Linked DNA regions of Homo sapiens: regions 1 and 2 are each linked to region 3. Evidence: fine-mapped expression QTL. A gene starts in region 3. Each other region holds a variant in brackets. All regions are shown on one strand. Distances are from middle to middle. Region 1 has its middle 7.4 kb from the start of LINC02562. Region 2 overlaps LOC105377284 (a long non-coding RNA gene). Region 3 holds the start of LINC02562 (long intergenic non-protein coding RNA 2562).

Region 1 (4,242 bases), 7.6 kb after region 3:
ATCAACCAAAAGGTCATCTACACCAAAACCCCATCTGTAGGTCACCAACATCAAAGACCAAAGGTAGATAAAACCACAAAGATGGGGAGAAACCAGAGCAGAAAACCTGAAAATTCTAAAAATCAGAGCACCTCTTCTCCTCCAAAGGATCGCAGGTCCTCACCAGCAGCGGAACAAAGCTGGATAGAGAATGACTTTGACAAGTTGACAGAAGTAGGCATCAGCAGGTCAGTAATAACAAACTTCTTCGAGCTAAAGGAGGATGTTTGAACCCGTGGCAAGGAAGCTAAAAACCTTGAAAAATGATTACACTTATGGCTAACTAGAATAAACAGTGTAGAGAAGACATTAAATGACCTGATGGAGCTGCAAACCATGGCAGGAGAACTTTGTGATGCATGCACAAGCTTCAATAGCTGATTTGATTAAGTGGAAGAAAGGGTATCAATGATGGAGGATCAAATTAATGAAATAAAGTGAGGAGACAAGGTTAGAGAAAAAGGAGTAAAAAGAAACAAACAAAGCCTCCAAGAAACATGGGACTATATGAAAAGGCCAAATCTAGTTTGATTGGTGTACCTGAAAGTGATGGAGAGAATGGAACCAAGTTGGAAAACACTCTTCAAAATATTATCCAGGAGAACTTCCCCAACATAGCAAGGCAGGCCAACATTCAAATTCAGGAAATACAGAGAACACCACAAAGATACTCCTTGAGAAGATCAACCCCAAGACACATACTTGTCAGATTCACTAAGGTTGAAATGAAGGAAAAAGTGTTAAGGGCAGCCAGAGAGAAAGGTCGAGTTACCCACAAAGGGAAGCCCATCAGACTAACAGCAGATCTCTTGGCAGAAATCCTACAAACCATAAGAGAGTGGAGGCCAATATTCAACATTCTTAAAGAAAAGAATTTTCAACCCAGAATCTCATATCCAGCCAAACTAAGCATCATAAGTAAAGGAAAAGTAAAATCCTTTGCAGACAAGCAAATGCTGAGAGATTTTGTCACCACCAGGCCTGCCTTACAAGAGCTTCTGAAGGAAGCACTAAACATGGAAAGAAACAATAGGTCCCAGTCAATGCAAAAACATGCCAAATTGTAAAGACTATTGATGCTATGAAGAAACTGCATCAATTAATGGGCAAAATAACAAGTGAACATCATAATGACAGGTTCAAATTCACACATAATAATATTAACTTTACATGTAAATTGACTACATGCCCCAGTTAAAAGACACAGACTGACAAATTGGATGAAAAGTCAAGACTCATCAGTGCGATGCATTCAGGAGACCCATCTCATGTGCAAAGACGCACATAGGCTCAAAATAAAGGGATGGAGGAAGATCTACCAAGCAAATGGAAAGCAAAGAAAAGCAGGGGTTGCAATCCTAGTCTCTGATAAAACAGACTTTAAACCAACAAATATCAAAAGAGACAAAGAAGGACATTACATAATGATAAAGGGATCAGTTCAACAAGAAGAGCTAACTATCCTAAATATCTATGCACTCAACACAGGAGCACCCAGATTAGTAAAGCAAGTCCTTAGAGACCTACAAAGGCTCTTAGACACACACATAATAATAATGAGAGACTTTAATATTCCACTGTCAATATTAGACAGATCAAAGAGACAGAAGGTTAACAAGGATATCCAGGAATTGAACTCAGCTCTGCACCAAGCAGACCTAATAGACATCTACAGAACTCTCCACCCCAAATCAACAGAATATACATTCTTCTCAACACCACATCACACTTAT[T/A]CTAAAATTGACCACATAGTTGGAAGTAAAGCACTCCTCAGCAAGTGTAAAAGAACAGAAAGAACAACAAACTGTCTCTCAGACCACAGTGCAATCAAATTAGAACTCAGGATTAAGAAACCCACTCAAAACCACACAACTACATGGAAACTGAACAACCTGCTCCTGAATGACTACTGGGTAAATAACAAAATGAAGGCAGAAGTAAAGATATTCTTTGAAACCAATGACAACAAAGACACAAAGTACCAGAATCTCTGGACACATTTAAAGCAGTGTGTAGAGGGAGTTTTATAGCACTAAATGCCTACAAGAGAAAGCAGGAAAGATCTAAAATTGACACCCTTACATCACAATTAAAATAACTGGAAGAAAGAGCAAACAAATTCAAAAGCTAACAGAAGGCAAGAAATAACTAAGATCAGAGCAGAACTGAAAGAGATAGAGACACCAAAAACCCTTCAAAAAATCAATGAATCCAGGAGCTGGTTTTTTGAAAAGATCAACACAATTGATAGACTGCTAGCAAGACTAATAAAGAAGAAAAGAGAGAAGAATCAAATAAACGCAATAATAAATGATAAAGGGGATATCACCACCGATCCCACAGAAATACAATCTACCATGAGAGAGTACTATAAACACCTCTACTCAAATAAACTAGAAAATCTAGAAGAAATGGATAAATTCCTGGACACATACACCCTCCCAAGACTAAACCAGGAAGAGGGTGAATCTCTGAATAGACCAATAACAGGCTCTGAAATTGAGGCAATAATTAATAGCCTGCCACCGAAAAAAGTCCAGGACCAGACAGATTCACAGCCGAATTCTACCAGAGGTACAAAGAGGAGCTGGTACGATTCCTTCTGAAACTATTCCAATCAATAGCAAAAGAGGGAAACCCTTCTAACTCATTTTATGAGGCCAACATCATCCTGATACCAAAGGCTGGTAGAGACACAATAAAAAAAGAGAACTTTAGACCAATATCCCTGATGAACATTGATGTGAGATTCCTCAGTAAAATACTACCAAACCGAATCCAGCAGCACATCAAAAAGCTTATCCACCATGATCAAATCAGGTTCATCCCTAGGATGCAAGGCTGGTTCGACATACACAAATCAATAAAGGTAATCCATAAACAGGACCAAAGACAAAAACCACATGATTATCTCAATAGGTGCAGAAAAGGCCTTTGACAAAATTCAACAGCCCTTCATGCTAAAAACTCTCAATAAGTTAGGTATTCATACAATATATCTCAAAATAATAAGAGCTATTCATGACAAACCCACAGCCAATTTCATACTGATTGGGCAAAATCTGGAAGCATTCCCTTTGAAAACTGGCACAAGACAAAGATGCCTTCTCTCACCACTCCTATTCAGCATAGTGTTGGAAGTTCTGGCCAGGGCAATCAGGCAAGAGAAAGAAATAAAGGATATTCAATTAGGAAATGAGGAAGTCAAATTGTCCCTGTTTGCAGATGACATGATTGTTTATTTAGAAAACCCCATTGTCTCAGCCCCGAATCTCCTTAAGCTGATAAGCAACTTCAGCAAAGTCTCAGGATACAAAATCCATGTGCAAAAATCACAAGCATTGCTATACACCAATAACAGACAAACAGAGAGCCAAATCATGAGTGAACTCCTATTCACAATTGCTACAAAGAGAATAAAATACCTAGGAATCCAACTTACAAGGGATGTCAAGGACCTCTTCAAGGAGATCTGCAAACCACTGCTCAAGGAAATAAAAGGACACAAACAAATGGAAGAATATTCCATGCTCATGGATAGGAAGAATCAGTATCGTGAAAATGGCCATACTGCCCAAGGTAATTTATAGATTCAATGCCATCCCCATCAAGCTACCAATGACTTTCTTCACAGATTTGGAAAAAACTACTTTAAATTTCATATGGAACCAAAAAAGAACCCACATTACCAAGACAATCATAAGGAAAAAGAACAAAACTGGAGGCATAATGCTACCTGACTTCAAACTATACTATAATGCTACAGTAACCAAAACAACATGGTACTGGTACCAAAACAGATATATAGACCAATGGGACAGAACATAGGTCTCAGAAATAATGCCACACATCTACAACCATCTGATCTTTGATGAACCTGACAAAAATAAACAATGAGGAAAGGATTTCCTAGTTAATAAATGGTGCTGGGAAAACTGGCTAGCCATATGTAGAAAGCTGAAATTGGATCCCTTCCTTGCACCTTAGACAAAAATTAATTCAAGATGGATTAAAGACTTACGTGTTAGACCTAAAACCATAACAACTCTAGAAGAAAACCTAGGCAATACCATTCAGGACATAGGCATGGGCAAGGACTTCATGACTAAAACACCAAAAGCAATGGCAACAAAAACCAAAATTGACAAATGGGATCTAATTAAACTAAACAACTTCTGCACGGCAAAAACAAACAAACAAACA
Region 2 (4,242 bases), 750 kb before region 3:
GTTGTCACTACTACCAACAGCCGCTGAAAATAGAGCTGAGAGCTCTCAACCATGCTGTGTGAGCTGCACAGCCAACATCACATGTAAAACAAGAGTTCTCAAAGTGTTTCTCAGGCTAGTGAGAGATTATTCCCCCCAAGAGAGCTCAAATAGGACGCTAATGAGTTTATTTGCTAACAGCGGTTTTCTGTACCGGATGTTGATGAAAGTTTAGACTTTGGGCTGTCATTCTTCATCTTTCCTCAGAGGAGTCTGCAGTAGCCCTGCAGTAATGTGTTCGTTTCCTGAGCTTTTAGGAGTAAGTATAAGATCACTGGACCATCCTTAACTGTACTCAAAAGAGCAAGATGTCCTGTCAACTTTCCCATTCTTACAGCGAACCATATTGCAGAGACCAAAGTGCCTGCTGCTGGCCCCGCAAATAGTAAGGTACCCTAGAAACCAGTAGCAGAAACTCTCAGGGGTCTCAAAACTCAAAGATGAAAGGATATGGACTCCAGGGTTCAAGTCCCTTAGAACAGTATTTCTCCACACTAGAATGGTCTAGGGAGGTGAGTGTTTTTTAAAAAAATATTGATGCCTTGGTCCCATCCCAGATCAAGTGAATCAAAATGTCTGAGGGTGGGACCCAGGCATCAACAATTATTTTTAGAAGTAAGTCTAATAAGGCCAGGCATGGTGGCTCAAGCCTATTATCCTAGCATTTTGGGAGGCCGAGATGGGCAGATCACTTGAGGTCAAGAGTTTGAGACCAGCCTGGCAAATATGGTGAAACCCCATCTCTACTAAAAAATACAAAAATTAGCCAGGCATAGTGGCAGGTGCCTGTAATCCCAGCTACTTGGGAGGCTGAGGCAGGAGAATCTCTTGAACCCGGGAGGCAGAGGTTGCAGTGAGCCGAGGTCACACCATTTTCTAGCCTGGGCAACAGAGCAAGACTCTATCTCAAAAAAATAAAACAAACAAACAAACAAAATAACCAAAAAAGTAAATCTAATATACAGTCACATTGTAAATCTCTAACTTAGAAAATTTTCCCCCCACTTAATCAAGGCAAAAATTATAGTTGGAGACAAAGAAGCCACAGCTATAATCATCACAAAACATCATAAGATGCCATGGTTTTGTTTTTGTTTGTTTGTTTGTTTTGAGATGGAATCTCACTCTGTTGCTTAGGCTGGAGTGCAGTGGCGTGATCTCAGCTCACTGCAACCTCCACCCCCTGGGTTCAAGCAATTCTCTGCCTCAGCCTCCCGAGTAGCTGGGACTGCAGGTGCACGCCACCACGCCAGGCTAAGTTTTGTGTTTTTAGTAGAGATGGGGTTTCACCATCTTGGCCAGGCTTGTCTTGAACTCCTGACCTCAGGTGATCCACCCGCCTTGGCCTCTCAAAGTGCGGGGATTACAGGCGTGAACCACTGCGCCCAGCCACCAGACGCCACGGTTTTTATTACAAAATGAAAACTCCTTTTTTTTTTTTTGAGACGACATCTCACTCTTGTCCCCCAGGTTGGAGTGCAATGGCGCAATCTCAGCTCACTTGCAACCTCCGCCTCCTGGATTCAAGCGATTCTCCTGCATCAGCCTCCCAAATAGCTGGGATTACAGGTGCCTACCACCACGCCCAGCTAATTTTTGTATTTTTAGTAGGGATGGGGTTTCACCATGTTGGCCAGACTGATCTCAGACTCCTGACCTCAGGTGATCCGCCTGCCTCGGCCTCCCAAAGTGCTGGGATTACAGGCATGAGCCACCGCTCCCGGCCCAGCAAAATGAAAACTCTTGTGTCAAAGCTAAGCAGCAGTTTTAACCACTGGAATTATGGTCACCCTGAGAATGAGAATTTGCCCTTATGTAAGAGTACAGAACCAAGGGCTAGTATTGGCCAGGTCCAGGTCCATTCTGCCCACGTGCAGTAAATCAATCACTGTAACACAGGTTTTGCAAAAGAGGGAAGATTTATTCACAAAGCCCCAGCGCTAAGACAGGAGAACAGCTCTCAAATCCACCTGACCGAAGATAAAGTTTAGGGATATTTATGCGTTAGGGAAGTGGGATGGTCTAAGGCATGGGGAAAGGTGATTGGCACTGGGGGAAAAAAAGACGTTAACAGGTTTGTTCTGCACAAGTATAGTCAGGGCTCATCGCATTTTATAGAACATACGTACAGAAAATGGTGGTGTTAGCATGATCTGAGGGTGGAGTTTTTGGCCTTCTCACATCAAAAGGCCACCTCTTGAGCACTAGTGCAGGCCCAGTTGAAGCATTGGTGGTTTCCACCAGTTTGAACTAGACAGGAGCTGGCCCAAATTCCTGAGAAACAACCATCTTTTTGCTCCCATTACCATGGTGACCTGCGAACACTGTCTACAAAGTAGTGAAGGTTAAGTTTCAGCATTCAGTGGCAAGGCCTTCAGCTATCTTGGCTTTCAGCTTCATGGAAAAAGGAAAACAGATAACAAAAAGCAAGGGACCAAAAGCAAGAAAGGCAGGCAGACCCGATCAAATTTACTCCTTGGTGTCAGGGCCAAGGGCCACCTTAGGAACCTGTGCACTGCTGACTTGTCCCGGGAAGGACCTGGAGGGCAAAGGGGTTTGGTGT[A/G]CCTCACACAGGAAATGCTCACCAAATACCAACTGGGTGCTTTGAATTTTGAAATAAAAACAATTTCAACTATACAAGGAAATTTCCTAAACTAATCTTTACCTGGGAGATAAATTTAGAATTAGCTCTTCCATGAAGTAGAGAGAAAACAGAACTTGGCAAAATGTTAATGCTTTTATCAAAATCGCTTAAAATGATTATGGATTAAAACTTGACTTTGAGAATTCCTGGCCACTTTGTCACATTTATACTTCTCCTTCCCCCGCCCCAATAAGAGACATATTTGTTTGACATGCTTTATTTATTTTTCTTGTCATTTTCTTGTTGTTGTTGTTGTTGTTGCTGTTTTGTCGACAGGCAGGAATGCAGTGGTTCCATCTTGGCTCACTGCAGCATTCACCTCCCCACCCTCCCCCACACCCTCCTCCTGCTCAAGCAATCCTCCCACCTCAGCCTCCTGAGTAGCTGGGATTATAGGCGCATGCCACCATTCCAACTAATTTTTGTATTTTTTGTAGAGATGGGGTCTCACTGTGTTGCCCAGGCTGGTCTCGAATTCCTAGGCTGCCTGCCTTGGCCTCCCAAAGTGCTGGGATTACAGGTTTGAGCCACCATGCCCGGCCTGGCTGCTTTTACTTTTTCCCTTTTTTCTTTCCTTATTTTCAGCTGCAGGAATGTAGCCAATTCAGAGGCCTTATTCCCCATAATTTGGAACTTTCCTTTGGATTTGATCAAGTCAGATAGAGTTGGTCAAACCCAAAATAAATCTAATATATTAGATTTATAATTTATATTAGATTACTGAGTGCTCTAATGGTAAGAAGAAATTAAGACCAGCTGGTTGTTAATCTTAACTTTAGCCATTAAGGAGAATTTCCAAAACAAAACCCCAATTCAGCTACTTACCTAGGAATGGGGCTCAGGATGAAGACTGCTCTCTGCCATCCTAGAAGCAGAAAAAAAACCTCAAACTCGCCTTACCTGTTCAAAGCAAGTTGAAACTCCAGAAAGGAGTTGCCTGCTCTCCATCATTATGGAAGCAGGAAAAGCTCACTTTCCTTGTTGAAAGTGAGTAAAACTCCAGAAAAGGAGTTGTACAGCAAAATAAACCTTAGATTTCAACCAAATTTTGGGAGATCAGGGATTCTCTGGAGGGGGCAGCTCCCAGGCCTAAGCAAATTGACCTATTAGTTTGAGCAATAAAGATAGCTCCAGCCAGATAGGAGATTTGCCAAAGGTCAAGGGCATCTCCACCTGACTTCCTTCATGGTTGCCAATCTGTGAACCAAAAAGTATCTGAGACAGGCCTCAATCAACTTAGAAAATTTGGCTGGATGCTGTGGCCCATGCCTGTAATCTCAGCACTGTGGAAGGCCAAGGCAGGCAGATCACTTGAGGTCAGGGGTTTAAGACTAGCCTGGCCAACATGGTGAAACCCCGTCTCTACAAAATTATCCAGGTGTGGTGGCGGGTGCCTGCAATCCCAGCTACTCAGGAGGCTGAGGCAGGAGAATCACTTGAACCCAGGAGGTGGAGGGTGCAGTAAGCTGAGATTGCACCACTGCACTCCAGCCTGGGTGACACAGTAAGACCCCACCTGGGGAAAAAAAAAAAAAAGAAATTTTAGAAAATTTATTTTG
Region 3 (4,242 bases):
GTTATCATCATCCAGGTCATAGTAAACATTTTGATATACATCATTCTTGTATGGTAGGGACAGACAATTCTTAAAGATACTAAAGTGATATCTGATTAAATTCTCGATATTTCCTGTGGCTTTGGATTTACAATCTAAGGTCATTCTATGTCTAAGGTTACTCTACTGTCACCTCTCAATAGCAGTTGTTTATGACTATGTTCATATGTCATATAAACATATACATTTTAATAAAAATGATGATCATATTTTTCATATTATTTTTTATAATTACTTTTTTCACCAATATTTTGTGAACATGTTTTCATGCCATTAATTTTATTTATTACATAAATTGTAGTGGCTGCATGGTATTCCACTATCCACAATTTAACTAATCCCCTATTGTATACCATAACCTTGTTTCCTTTAAAAATGTTCTTGTTTGCTTATTTTCTTCATAATATAAGCATTCTTACACACCAATAACAGACAAACAGAGAGCCAAATCATGAGTGAACTCCCATTCACAATTGCTTCAAGGAGAATAAAATACCTAGGGATCCAACTTACAAGGATGTGAAGGACCTCTTCAAGGGGAGCTACGAACCACTGCTCAACGAAATAAAAGAGGACACAAACAAATGGAAGAACATTCCATGCTCATGGATAGGAAGAATCAATATCATGAAGATGGCCATACTGCCCAAGGTAATTTATAGATTCAATGCCATCCCCATCAAGCTACCAATGACTTTCTTCACAGAATTGGAAAAAACTACTTTGAAGTTCATATGGAACCAAAAAGGGCCCACATCACCAAGACAATCTTAAGCCAAAAGAACAAAACTGGAGGCATCATACTACCTGACTTCAAACTATACTACAAGTCTACAGTAACCAAAACAGCATGGTGCTGGTACCAAAACAGAGATACAGACCAATGGAACAGAACAGAGCCCTCAGAAATAATATCACACATCTACAACCATCTGATCTTTGACAAACCTGACAAAAACAAGAAATGGGGAAACGATTCCCTATTTAATAAATGGTGCTGGGAAAACTGGCTAGTCATATGTAGAAAGCTGAAACTGGATCCCTTCCTTACACCTTAGACAAAAATTAATTCAAGATGGATTAAAGACTTAAATGTTAGACCTAAAACCATAAAAATCCTAGAAGAAAACCTAGGCAATACCATTCAGGATGTAGGCATGGGCAAGGACTTCATGTCTAAAACACCAAAAGCAATGGTAACAAAAGCCAAAATTGACAAATAGGATCTAATTAAACTAAAGAGCTTCTGTACAGCAAAAGAAACTACCATCAGAATGAACAGGCAACCTACAGAATGGGAGAAAATTTTTGCAATCTACTCATCTGACAAAGGGCTAATATCCTGAATCTACAAAGAACTCAAACAAATTTGTAAGAAAAAAAAATCCCATCACAAAGTAGGCGAAGGATATAAACAGACACTTCTCAAAAGAAGACATTTATGCAGCCAACAGACACATGAAAAAATGCTCATCATCACTGGCCATCAGAGAAATGCAAATCAAAACCACAATGAGATACCATCTCACACCAGTTAGAATGGCGATTATTAAAAAGTCAGGAAACAACAGGTGCTGGAGAGGATGTGGAGAAACAGGAACACTTTTACACTGTTGGTGGGACTGTAAAGTAGTTCAACCATTGTGGAAGACAGTGTGGCAATTCCTCAAGGATCTAGAACTAGAAATACCATTTGACCCAGCCATCCCATTACTGGGTATATACCCATAATACATAATACTATTATGAAAAGCCATGTATGTAAATGGTGCATCTCTATTCTTAATTGTTTACTTAAGATTTAGGATTAATTCCTAGAAGTTAAAGTATTTTTGTGGGCATAGTTTTAAGGCTTTCATATGTATTCTTGTATGACCCTCCAAAAACTCTGGAGAATGCATTTTCTACCGTAGTAATACCCCTAACCTGAGAAGCATAAGCTATGTCTGCCAAAACATTGTTAAATTGGTTTTTATCTCTCTGATTATTGGCAAAGTTGATCCTTCCTTCCTTCCTTCCTTCCTTCCTCCCTTCCTTCCTTCCTTCCTTCCTTCCTTCTTTCCTTCCTTCCTTCTTCTTCGTCTTTTTGCAGATTCTCCATTCAACATCTGTGCCAATTATTTTATCGGGGTGTTCATCTTGTTTTTAAAATCAAGTTCTTCTTAACATAGCAATAATTTAAATACCTGTCAATATGTTGCAAATACATTTATCCAAGTAGTTGCTATTATATATATATATATTTTTTCAGTTGAGACAGGATCTCACTATGTTGCCTTGCATGGACTGGAACTCCTTGGCTCAAGAAATCTTCTTGCCTCAGCCTCCCAAATAGCTAGGACTATATGCACATGCTACTACACCTAGTAAGTTTCTTTTTAACCTTATAATATTTTAACATATAAAGTTAATTCATTTTTAATGTATATATTAATAAATTTCCTTAGGATTTTTCCCTTTGTATTTATGCTTTAAAAACTTTTCCTACAATGAAATTACATAAATATCCACCTATTTTTTCTTATAGTTCTAAAATTAAAATTTTTTTTTGTCTGTTTTATTCAACTCTCGTATGGAAAGACCAATACAGGTATCCGTCATTACCACTGACACCTTCTGAACGAAGAGTCCTATTTAGCTTCTTGTGCAGATTTCCATATGCTCTGTCATGTGACTCCACTTATCTACTCTGGCTGCCACTGAATGAGCCAGAGGTGTGCACCTATCCCAAGAGAAACAATCTTCAGGGAACCAATTTCACAAGTCACCAGCTAGGAGGCTATGAGGTGGCCTTGCATGATAGCTCTGTCCAAATGGGAATGACTGGACAAAGAAGTCTCTTTTATAACTTGTCTTGGGATTGTAAACAAAGATATAGCTGGTTAGTAGCAAAAGGATATGACGAGAAAATGCATGCAAAATTCCCACGAGACAGAGAAAACCATTAGTAAGCAGAAGATATGAGAAAGCAGAAGCTATAAAACAGAGAATATAAAGTAGCTCGCTTTCAATAGCACCAAGAGTGTAGAAATATAATGGAAAGGTGCAAGGTCATCTGCTATTGAGGATGAACAATAGAGCAACGTTAGATGTAGAATTACTTTAGATTGCAAAACCAAAGACTTGAGAGATATCAAGAATTCAATCAGATGTCACTTTGATATTTGTAAGAGTTTTTTAGTCCTATGAAATGAAAATAAAAGATAGAAATCCATCAAATTCAGAGTGCTTTATAGTTATATGGAAACACATTTACATGTCTTAAAATCCAAAGATTGAAGTCAATTGGATGGAGGCTCCAGATTCTAAGGTAACTTGAAGATTAACAATAATATGAGCAAATCTAGGGTATGTGAGTTACGTGGCTTTCTCCTTTAAATTTTGGAGCCATTGATACAGCTATAAATAGACCCTTCCCATCAGCGTAACAGACAAGGATCTAGCCCCATCCTCGACTGATATCCTCTGGTTACTGGGAAACTTCAGCAAACTAAGAAGACAATGCCCTCCTCTTAATTATTTGGGATGACATATTTACTTCCTAGTGAGTATGCTGGATATTCTCTTATTTGCTCTTTATTCCTTAAGATTCACTCTCTTTCCCTCTCTACTCTTCTCTGAACCCCCAGGAAGCTGATCTGTAACAAGCAGATCAACCAGGCTCTCTTGTTTTCTGGCTTCCAGAGGTTCAGAGGGTGACAGAGAAGAGAGGGGTGAAGTATTTGTTCCCCTGTCTTTCTACATGTCTGGCTTCAGATTGGCAGTGGCTGTGCTCCCCGACCCAAAGCCACGGCTCCTGTCAGGGGACCACCTGACAGCTCCAGGTTTTACTGCATTCTGATAAATGCCCCTTTAGACCTAGATATGGTATCTGACCTCTTGTTGCTAGCCCTGGGTTTTTTTGCCATTATTGTTAGTTTCCACCACATTTTTGTCAATAATCATTTAGCTAAACTTTTGTCCATTACCGTGTCTGAATGTGTCATCAATGTCCTGCAAGCACCCTAATGATTACATAACTGGTACCAAGAGGGGTCTCAGAAATAAGCTATTAAAATGGGATTTTGGGATCGAGTGTCTCACTTATTTGATGCAAAGATAAATAATCTTGTTTTTTTTTTGTCTGGGACACTGGTAATCCATGGTATGTGGTGTTATCATGATTACTCAAACTATCATCAGTAGTAGTATAGAATGGAGTGC

Evidence for each region. PIP is the estimated chance that this variant, and not a neighbour inherited with it, causes the effect.
Region 1: its variant is fine-mapped to the expression of LINC02562 in esophagus mucosa (GTEx, PIP 0.93).
Region 2: its variant is fine-mapped to the expression of LINC02562 in prostate (GTEx, PIP above 0.99).

Annotation. Positions count from the first base shown.
Region 1 is chr4:75,075,197-75,079,438 of GRCh38, reverse strand. No RefSeq gene overlaps it. Among named protein-coding and RNA genes, the nearest start is that of LINC02562, 7.4 kb to the left of the region's middle. The variant T/A (reference allele first, on the strand shown) is at 1,773.
Region 2 is chr4:75,837,656-75,841,897 of GRCh38, reverse strand. It overlaps LOC105377284 (a long non-coding RNA gene), which reads right to left. Exons shown (of 5, transcript XR_938891.2): 5 at 3,198-3,548. Among named protein-coding and RNA genes, the nearest start is that of PPEF2, 63 kb to the left of the region's middle. The variant A/G (reference allele first, on the strand shown) is at 2,603.
Region 3 is chr4:75,082,752-75,086,993 of GRCh38, reverse strand. LINC02562 (long intergenic non-protein coding RNA 2562) reads left to right here and starts at 2,286. Exons shown (of 2, transcript NR_149051.1): 1 at 2,286-2,405.